Regions from separate parts of the Homo sapiens genome. Here region 1 is linked to region 2. Evidence: fine-mapped expression QTL. A gene starts in region 2. The other region holds a variant in brackets. All regions are shown on one strand. Distances are from middle to middle. Region 1 overlaps VPS37A (VPS37A subunit of ESCRT-I). Region 2 holds the start of VPS37A (VPS37A subunit of ESCRT-I).

What was found. PIP is the estimated chance that this variant, and not a neighbour inherited with it, causes the effect. A credible set is the group of variants that fine-mapping cannot tell apart.
Region 1: its variant is the best candidate, but not a certain one, in a credible set for the expression of VPS37A in NK cells (Gilchrist 2021, PIP 0.88).

The regions. Positions count from the first base shown.
Region 1 is chr8:17,270,386-17,275,385 of GRCh38, forward strand. VPS37A (VPS37A subunit of ESCRT-I) reads left to right here. Exons shown (of 12, transcript NM_152415.3): 5 at 4,348-4,573. Among named protein-coding and RNA genes, the nearest start is that of VPS37A, 26 kb to the left of the region's middle. The variant T/TTC (reference allele first, on the strand shown) is at 2,473.
Region 2 is chr8:17,243,411-17,248,874 of GRCh38, forward strand. VPS37A (VPS37A subunit of ESCRT-I) reads left to right here and starts at 3,548. Exons shown (of 12, transcript NM_152415.3): 1 at 3,548-3,959. The coding sequence starts at 3,835. CNOT7 (CCR4-NOT transcription complex subunit 7) reads right to left here and starts at 3,447. Exons shown (of 7, transcript NM_013354.7): 1 at 3,265-3,447; 2 at 1,626-1,837. The coding sequence starts at 1,742. RefSeq lists an enhancer at 3,196-4,044.

The sequences.
Region 1 (5,000 bases), 27 kb after region 2:
GTTAATGTTGGCTTAATGGTTAGACTTCAGTGCTGATACATCTATATGTGGCATCTCCATGTGACCTGCGCTTCCTCACTGCGTGGCAGGGGTGAGATCTGAGGGTCAGGATCCCAAGAGAGAGAGCATTCCAACCAAGTGGAAGCTGTATTATCTTTTTTGGTTTAGTCCTGAATGTTATTCAGCATCATTTCTGCTGCATTTTCTAAAGTTAGTCACCTAGATCCACCCAGATTGAAAGGGGAGGGAAAGTAGACTTCATTTCTCGATGGGGTAGCAAAGTTCAAGAAGTTCATATGGGACTGGAAATCTGGTTGTGGCCATTTTGGAATATAAAGTCGGTCACATTCTTCCTCCTAGCCGTAAGAATTCACCTCTTTCCTATAGGTGAATAGGCACACTCCCCTTTCCCCAAGAACTTGCAGAGTTCATCATATTGTAGAATCAGGCTTGTGTTCTTTCATCTAAATCAGATTCAAGTACAGATGAGGTTTCTCACTTGTGTTCCTGAAGAACAATTCCTCTTGATCTGAAGACAACGGAATTAAAGAGACAAGGTAGCTGCCCCTCACACACCCACTGTACAATGGTAGAACAAGCCTCGGGTAACCACTATAGATTCCAAAAGAGAGGAAGTAGGAAGCACACAGGAGCCACTGGTTCATAACAGTACTGAAATCCAACTGGGCACATTGTTTTTTTTATTAAGACTTAGTTAATGGAAATGATTCTTCATAGAGTAATTTTCGTTTCTTGGTTCTGCCTTCTGTGTCATAATTCCTTTCTGTAAAATGTAGCCCTTGTTTCCAAGTGCATAGTTTTTTCAGCCTGCTTCCTGCCTGTAGAAATTAAGGGTCTGTTAGCCTCTTTTTCATTTGGTACTTTCTCTGTCCCTTGTAGACCCAAGATGACACAATTCCTTTAACATGCTTATGATTGGCTGGGCGCGGTGGCTCACGCCTGTAATCCCAGCACTTTGGGAGGCCGAGGCAGGCGGATCACGAGGTCAGGAGATCGAGACCATCCTGGCTAACACGGTGAAACCTCGTCTCTACTAAAAATACAAAAAAGTTAGCTGGGCATGGTGGTGGGCACCTGTAGTCCCAGCTACTCGGAAGGCTGAGGCAGGAGAATGGCGTGAACCCGGGAGGAAGAGCTTGCAGTGAGCCGAGATCACGCCACTGCATTCCAGCCTGGGTGACAGAGCAAGACTCCGTCTCAAAAAAAAAAATGCTTATGATTTCTTATGAATCCTTTTTCATTCATTTCATTAAACAAAAGCAACACCCACTAAGCTCCTCCAAATAAGCTGTTGGGCTTCCAGTGAGGCTGCTGAGAGACAATGTCTTTAAGATTCTTTGAAGCCCTAAGTGGCTGTTTTTCTTACTCGACAGCACTCTGAGGCTCTGCCTTGGCTCTTCCAGAGGTGTTAACAAAGGATCTTCTAGCCCATGCTGGGTTTGAACTTTGCTTTTAGAGGTGTTTCTTAATTTGAGAATCTTAGGGAAGCTAGGAATGAGAGATAAATTTATTTTCAAATCCAGGAAATCTCATCTTTCATATTTAGCAGTTCTTTAATTTCTCTCTCTTCTCACATTTTACTACAGCCAGCTAGAAATCAGGTGGCACCATCCGCACTGCCTGGAAATCTCCTTAGCTAGATCATCCAATTCACTAGGTACATTTTCTGTTTTCCATATTATTGCATGCAGCAGTATTGGTAAACTTTCCACTAATAAAAAGTTCTCCTTCCGGTGACCATCTGCTCAAAGGCCCACCAGGCTCCTCCTAACAGCCTCTTTGAGGCCCATTAGACCTTCATAATCTTCTGAGGGGACTTCCAGCCTATAGCTCTGCTTGGTCCCAAAGCTACTCCCACACTTTAGATTTTTGTTGTTGTTGTTGTCATAGCAGCATTCCACTTCCAGGTACTTCAGCCCTCTCCCCCTCATCTTTTTCTTCCTGTTTTCTATGTTCTAGAGTCCTGAGTCCTTATTTTCAGATAAAAAATGTATTCAAAACCCATACCTCTATCTTCTGTAGTAATAGGGCTGGATATAAACTCATTTACCTTATTTGAAAATACAAACCGACAAGTTTACTTGTTTTCATTTCAGATAAGTTCGGGGATATAGTACCATTATTAAAAATCAAGTTTGATGCATTTCTTAGATTATTTTGTGGGTTGTACCTGCTACTGAGTTCAAAATAAAGCAGATTGGGTCAGAATTATTGATTTAAATTCAAAGATATTACAAATACTCTCTCATGTTGGTTTTATTGTTTCTAAATAGCTTGTTATATTCACATACATATCACTAATTCCTTCAGATAAATTTTAAGATAAAGATGAGCCATCGTTTGAAATGAACAAGCTGATTAGAAAACTTAATTTTTTCTAGGGGTCATATATTCACCTGGCTCAAAATTCAAAAAGTATAAAGGAGTATAGAGTGAAAATCTCCGTGTCAC[T/TTC]TTTTTCCCTTGCAGCTTAATTTTTTTTCCTCATTAGCATCTAAAGTTATTTGTTTGGGTTTGTGTATATATAATTCCTGAGCTGTTTTATTCATCTACAAGAAAATATATATAGTATTGTATTTTCCCCCTTTTTTATATGAATGGTAGCATATTTTGCCCTTCCTTTTTTTTTTTTTTTTTTTTTTTTTGGTGGAGGGGGTCACTAAATGATATGGTTTTGGAAAGTTTTTCATGTTAGTACTAAGGCACTTCCTCATTATTCCTTATAGCCACAAAGTATTTGTTTTATGGGTGTATTATAATGTCTTTAGCAAGCCTGACAGATATTTTCATGTTTTCTAACCCTCCCTCAAAAGCCCATCCTACTTCATTGCCGTCAGTGCTGCTCCAGTAAATAATCTTTAAAATAATATTTTACCCAAATGTGAGCTTATTTGTTGGATAAATTCTAGAAGTGTAATGCACATTTGTAGTTTTGACAAATGCTGCAAAATTGCCCTCCAGAGTAGTTGTACCAGTTTCTGTTCCTATACAATCCCTATTTTCCCCAGGCTGGAGTGCAGTGGCGCAATCTCGGCTCACTGCAAGCTCGGCCTCCCGGGTTCATGCCATCCTCCTGCCTCAGCCTCCCGAGTAGCTGGGACTACAGGCGCCCACCACTACGCCCAGCTAATTTTTTGTATTTTTAGTAGAGACGGGGTTTCACCGTGTTAGCCAGGATGGTCTCGATCCCCTGACCTCATGATCCACCTGCCTCAGCCTCCCAAAGTGCTAGGATTACAGGCGTGTATTAGGGTTTTATAATTTGTTTTGCTTTATCAAAGGACTAATATTTCTGTACCTTCCTTTTTCAGGCTTTTTTTCTTTCTACTGTGGCTTATTTTTCCATATACATTTTAGTGTCATTCGTATACATTTAAAAAAAATGTTTTCTTCCCACAAAATTTCCAACTCAGGTTATGTCATTAAATGAAATAATAGTACTCTCATAAAAAATTAATACATTTTGAAACATTTTTCAATGTAAAGGGAAGCATTTTAGTAGCATTACATTAATATTTAAAACATAACTGTAAGTCCCTTATCCTTTACACTAGAGTGCCTGATCCATATAAACTCACTGTATTATTCATATATTGTATTTAGATGATTCTCAGTCTGCATCTAGGTCTGAATTACTCTAATGCTTTTTAGAGTAATATAATGATCTGGTTCTCTCTAAAATTTGCTAAGGGGAAAAAATGTTAAATGTAAAATATTTGTTATCTTGCAAAAATAAATACTGACTATATTGTTCTGTGATTGAATCCAAAGTACATAATGCTGTGTGACTCTAATATACATGCGTGTTTATATATGCATCTGTTTTTAATATTTCAACATTTTAGAAGCTCATCTGCATACTTAATTTTACTTCGAAATTTTCTAGAAAAGCAGTCTTGACTTTCAGTCAGATTTTGACAAATACAGAGAAAGCTGTTAGCCTCTACTTGAATAAATGTCCTGGATTAAATATTGCTCTGCATTCCCTCTATGGAGATACTGATTGATAGCAGTGGAGTGCTGAAAACTCAAAAATGGCCTGTCTATCCACTTCTACTCCGTCCAGTTGAATTGCATGCTTTCTAAAGCACCCATCATCTTCTTTGTAGAAACCACAATTCTACAATTCTTTTTTTTCGGGGGGGTGGGGTCATATTTTACCACTTTATATAATATTTAATTCCATTATATAATTTAATAAATATCACCTGCCATTATAACATTTCATCTATATAGTACTTGACCTTTGTTATTTAGAACAATTTAGAAACAATTTGACATGTTTTATCCATAAAATCTAATGTAATGATCTTCTCTTTTTCTTTTCAGTCTATACAGTAACCCAAGTGGGATGTCTCCTTATGCTTCTCAGGGTTTTCCATTTCTTCCTCCATATCCTCCACAAGAAGCAAACAGGAGTATCACTTCTTTATCTGTTGCTGACACTGTTTCTTCTTCAACAACAAGTCATACCACAGCCAAGCCTGCCGCTCCTTCATTTGGTGTCCTTTCAAATCTGCCATTACCCATTCCCACAGTGGATGCTTCAATACCGGTTGGTATCGTCAGTTATCTATATTTTGTGCCACTGAAACATTCATTCAATCCACACACCTTTATTACATGCCTCTGTGTGCCAGATAATAAGTTAGACACAAAATATGAAAAGATGAACTCACATTTTTCAATTCAAGTAACAGGTAACCAACAAATAATAATTTTAAATATGGAGCTTCTAATTCTAGTGTAGTAGAAGGGACAGAGTTTTGGTAGAGACACAGTTAGGGGAATGGTCAGTGCTCCTAGGGACCAAGGTAGAACTAGTAGATCGCCTTTACAAAAAATGTGATTCTGGTTTTTTTCACCACTTTCTTAGTGCCTCAAATATACTGATGAATATAGTGGGTACTCTTTAAAAATGAGGCAGCTAAACAAATGCATGCATTTATGCTTGAGGCCAGATTTTGAAAGATCATTATTAA
Region 2 (5,464 bases):
ATACATGTGATAAATTTAACCAAATACTTACTCTATAACCAAGAAAGGGGGGAAAATCATAAATTCCTGTCTCCCAAAGGATACATGAAATGATGCTCACAGTATTCCAATGCTAAAACCAAGTTTCTTGAAGAACTGGTTCAAAAGAGGGGAAAACGCCCTGTACTTTCCAATTGCTTCTCTGACACAAGGTTTTTCTCAACACCAAAACCCTAAGAAAAACATCATTAGCTTCCTAATTTCTCTGGCTTAAACAATATTCTCTCTATAGTCCACAGAAAGCATGCTGTCAAGAATTGCATGCCACCTACTCACTCTTGTAGGATGTTATCACTTCTCTATGTTGCCACTCTTTATCATCTGAGAAATCAATGATCACTATGAATTTCCATTGGTTAAGAAAACAATTTTAGTTCTAATCATGGGTAAGTACACCTTTATCAAATAGTATGTCATCTACAAAGAAACAGTCATATTTTAACCAATCAACTTGCTCCTCCCCAAAGTAATGCATTTGTTTATTTTTATTAAAAATACTGAGACAAAGATACATCGGTTTAGTATTAGAATTCAAACTAGGGCTAGCTAAGAATAAAAACTACCTATCAAGTCACTATGAAATAGTAAAGAAATCAATATTTCTCTAAATTCAGTGCAATTCAACAGCCACTTTATTGAATACTATATGTGTTATGCTAGGTGTTGGGAGAGAAAGGATTAAAACACTTGGTTTATGGAGCTAATAATAATCCAGTGGATGTAGAAAACAGTAGGGTAGCTAACAGATATAGACAGTATAATGGTAAAGAAGAAAAATCATTAACTGGATAGACAATCTAGGCAGACCAAACAGCACGTGCAAAAGCAGAGTTGCTTAGTAACACAGTATATTCACAGAACTCCAGTGTTAATTATGAAAACAAATTGCAGACCAACAACGTTTCACTGGCACATCTGATTTTTTTGTTTGAGAAAGAGCACCCTAGCTTCTGGGAGCTCATGTGGTACTACCAGCTAGGCTTTGGTGTTGCTAGGAGCAGACCTGGCACTCATAGCCACGCCCTAATGTTCTCCTGTTGAACACAATTTCACAAAAGTTCAACCTCAAATAAGGCCACTCTGTAATCATGTCTGAACAAGGACAAAAAAATAAAAATGTCAAACCACAAAATGACCAAGTATCTCCATCCTGGCTAAATGAATGACTGTTCCTTCTCTGCAGCTTTAACCTCATTCTAGTCTCTCATTTAAGACTTAGTAAGATACCCAATCACAGAATTACCCCAGCTTCCCGAACACATCCAATCCACAGTAAAGCTCTGCTTCCCTTACCTTCCCCTAAGACCACCTGACACGAGCCCAAATCCTTCCTAACTCTTATTCAAACGGCCCATGGTTCCCATGAATTCCAGTGCGTTTTCCCTCACTGCAATGAGGGATAAACCCAACCTGTCAAATCACAGGTGTATTCCTGATGGATTTTGGCTGGAGGGCAGTGACAAATTTTACTTTTCATGGTGAAATTAATCCCTAAAAATATCAACCAAAAGGGTTGAATTCAAGACTTTAAAATTTCCTTTTCCTCCTTTATATGAAGCGTTTTAAAGATCTGCTTGTGGGCATACCATAGCAACGTAATTATATTTTCGGATAACTTGACGAATTTTCTTCATCTCTTCATCCAAGTTGCAAGCCCAAACTTCACAAATTCTTTGGCTATGATCTACAGTTGCCGCTGGCATAGTGAGGGCACAAGGGAGTCTAGATGCCAAGCATCAAAATGTTATACTTGATTGAAGATTTGTTTCATAAAATATTTTATCCTTTATTTATGTACCTGTCAAAATAAAAAAACAATATGAAGACCAGATATATCAAATCTGAATCACAGAATAATTGATCCAGCAGGAACCTAAGAAGTTATTTATTCAAAGTTCTTGACTCATAAAAAAAAAAAATCAAAGTTTAGAAAGTAACTTAAGGTCACACAGCTAGTCTATAGGAAAAAAAGGACTACAGTACAGATTTCCTGGTCCTAATTTCAGTTATTTTAAAATAGCTTTTTTACACATACATACTAATCATATTTTATAACTTTCCACTAATTATTTATCTGAGTTCAACTACTCTGCATAAAACTTTATAAAGCCATCCATTTCCAGACAAAAAATGAAAAATTACTTATTTACATGTGACAAGATCAGATGTTACCATGGCAAAGATGGTGTTTATTTTTATTCCTCATTAATAAAACAACCAAAATCCGACTTGATAACAAGATCTACTTTACCGGCGTTTATTCTAACTAGACTAGAGGGGTCAAAAATGTTTGTAAATGCTCTGAGAAAAAAGTAACGGCCATGAAAATTATCTGAATGTTCGCAGTTGCAGAACGGAAAAAGAACACAATAGAACGTCTAAAACTTAGAGCATATTGCATGGTTACCAAAGATAGATGTCACATTTCTGGTCTATAAACAGAGTTCCTGTTGATTCTTGGGCAGGGAAATTTCAAATCCTTCTGCATTTTTCATACAAATTGGAAAAAAAAAAAACAAGAGTAAAAAGAGGGTCTTATGACTGTCTTCTAAACTCTGAAGAGTCACAAATGTAACTTCCAATTCTCCAAGTAGAGAAACTAAAGGAGATCCAGGACACCCCTCCTTTATAACTCTCCCACCCCGATAGGCACACACACACACATAAGCACAAAAACACAAAGACTTGGAAAGACCCTGTAGTCTAACATTGTTTTCCTCCACCTCTCTCTCTACTGCAGTCCCAGAAGCCCCGAAGAGACACCAAAGGCCTTCTCATTACTGGAGAAAGCATCTCCGTACTGCAGTTTCCCAGAGAAACGAGAGGACGGCACCGAGGTATTCAAGCCATAGATAACTCTCTTCCCTGGCAAAGCGCCAGTGCGAAGGTGCTGATAACACTGACTGGAGCTACACTGACTCCCAAGCACTGCCGCGTGAAACAATACGAAGAGGTGAGGATCTAGGCCACCGCCCTCCACTCCCAATTTCCGTCCCACTGCGAAGCCCCAGGTACAAAGCCTTTGCGTCATCACTACGCGCCAACCCCTTGACAAACCCCCAGCCCCAGTTACCCAGCCCCCAACCCGCCGCCAGGCTCCTTCCTCCGCCAGCCGCACTCCAGCTGGCGCCATCGCGCACCCTCTCAGGTTCATCGTCCCCGCCCCCTTTCTACTTCCCTAACCCGCCCCTCCCCCCGTAAGGCTGCAGCGGATGCAAGATCTACTTGTGTCGCTGAGCTCGCGCTCCTCCTCCTCCTCCTCGCCATAGAGACAGCACTCGGCGGCGGTGGCGGTGGCGGTGGCGGTAGCGGCGGCGGCAGCGGGTGCCCCATAGACACCTCTCGCCCAGCGAAGGGAAAGGCGAGCAGGAGCTGCGCCGCACCGTGCTGCGCCGTCGCTTTTCGCACGTCCTGACGGGGGCGCTAGATGATGACGCGACACGCAGAGGGGGCGGAGAGCGCCCCCGGGGGCGGGGCACGCAAGTGACGGCGGCGCGGGTGGTGGAGCGCTGGGCGGCCAGGCTCCCTGGCTGGCCGGTTTGGGCGTCTGGGCCGTGAAGGTGGGACCTCCTGTTCCGGGCCGCAAGTTTCCCTCTCCAGCCGCCCGCCGTTCGTAGCATGTCCCCCAGAACTCGGGGAGCGCAGGCAGGACAGGCTTAGAGAAGACGCGGTCCCCAGCGCTTGGGCCACGGACGTCCCACCCCGCTCCTCTGTCGCTGGAGAACCGCCGGGCCGAGCCACTGGGAGAAGCAGGCCAGAGCCTTCCAGGGCCTCCGGCCCGTGGACCCGAGGAGGATGAGCTGGCTTTTTCCCCTGACCAAGAGCGCCTCCTCCTCCGCGGCTGGGTCCCCCGGTGGCCTCACCAGCCTCCAGCAGCAGAAGCAGCGCCTGATCGAGTCCCTCCGGAACTCACACTCCAGGTGACTGGTCGCTGCCTCTCCACCGGAGGAAAAAGTAGGGTGGGAGGGCGGGCTTGTCCTAACCACCCTCACAGCGCCTCAGTCTGCTCCCCACCAGCTCCTCATGTGGTTTACCTCCCTTGGTTGTGGGTCACACGCTTGCTCTGCCACTCCTGCCCCCTTTTACTGTTTTCCTCCGGACCCTCCCTGCCTCCTGCCGCACCACTGCTCAGCGCTTCTAACTCGGATTTCCTCATCCCTCCTGACACATAGCTGCTGACTGTAATCTCTCAATCTCTCTCATAGTCTATTTCCAGTATCCCTTGCTGCCCAGGCTTCGCCACTGATCTTTCCCTTTGCCCACCTGATTGCCGCGTCAGCAGAATTGTTAAAATACAATTGTGAAGAGTAATCTCCAGGTTTCACAAAGAATGGAAAATAGAACTGTTGCAACATCAAAGGAAAGGGAAGCCAGAGTTTTCATCAGTGAATGCTTCTCGTCTGAGAGTCACTTATCACGTAGTCAGTCTTCTTGAGTCTCTAAGATTTACCCTGTTGGAGCAGTCTCTCCCCATCTCACAGCGACCAGTGCATGTACATTTCTCACTTCTTTCATAGTCTTGTCCCCACGCTCAAGAATTACTTTATGTTCATCTTGATTGTTCTGTTGTCTTCCTGTGAGTTTTTCATTTTATCATGGTCAGTTTAGAAATATTTTTACAATTCATATTATTTCAACTTTTACTGTAAATTGGTTTGCTGCAGCCTTTTACATTGCAAATGTCTATGGTCTCTAATGGTTTTCAAAAATTAGAACTGCTTCTTTATATTTTATGCATTTTGCAAGTATATTTACTTAACAGTTTCACACTATTTTAAATAAAGATGACAACATTGTTAAGTCCCTAACCCCTTTTTTTTTTTTTTTTTTTGCCGGGGGTACGGCTCTCCTGTTGCCCAGGCTGGAGCGCAGTGGCGCGATCTCGGTTCACTGCAACCTCCGTCTCCCGGATTCAAGCAATCATCCTCCCTCAGCTCCCCACACCCCTCCGAGTAGCTGGGATTACAGGTGCGCGCCACCATGCGCGGCTAATATTTTGTATTTTTAGTAGAGACGGGGTTTCACCACATTGGTCAGGCTGGTCTCGAACTCCTGACCTTAGATTATCCACCCGCTTCGGCCTCCCAAAGTGCTGGGATTACAGGAATAAGCCACCTCGCCGGGCTCCTAGCCCTTTTAAAAATATTATTTTCATACAGTTAAAAAATATGTATCCTCAGATAATATCGAATAATTCTTATTTAAAATGGAATAATTTTTAATTAAATAGTCTAGTTAATAGAAAAATTTACTGCAAAATCAGTTTGGCTAAAATAAGGCCTGATGCTGACTGAACTTTAGGTGTTTCTTGGTTCGTTGTCTCAATTGTTCTGTTTGTTCAGAACTTTCAAAAGGTGAAATTTTATGCTGTTTAACAGAAAAGAATGGCAGGCTGTTATTGGTGGCTTTCATTCTGGAAAATTAA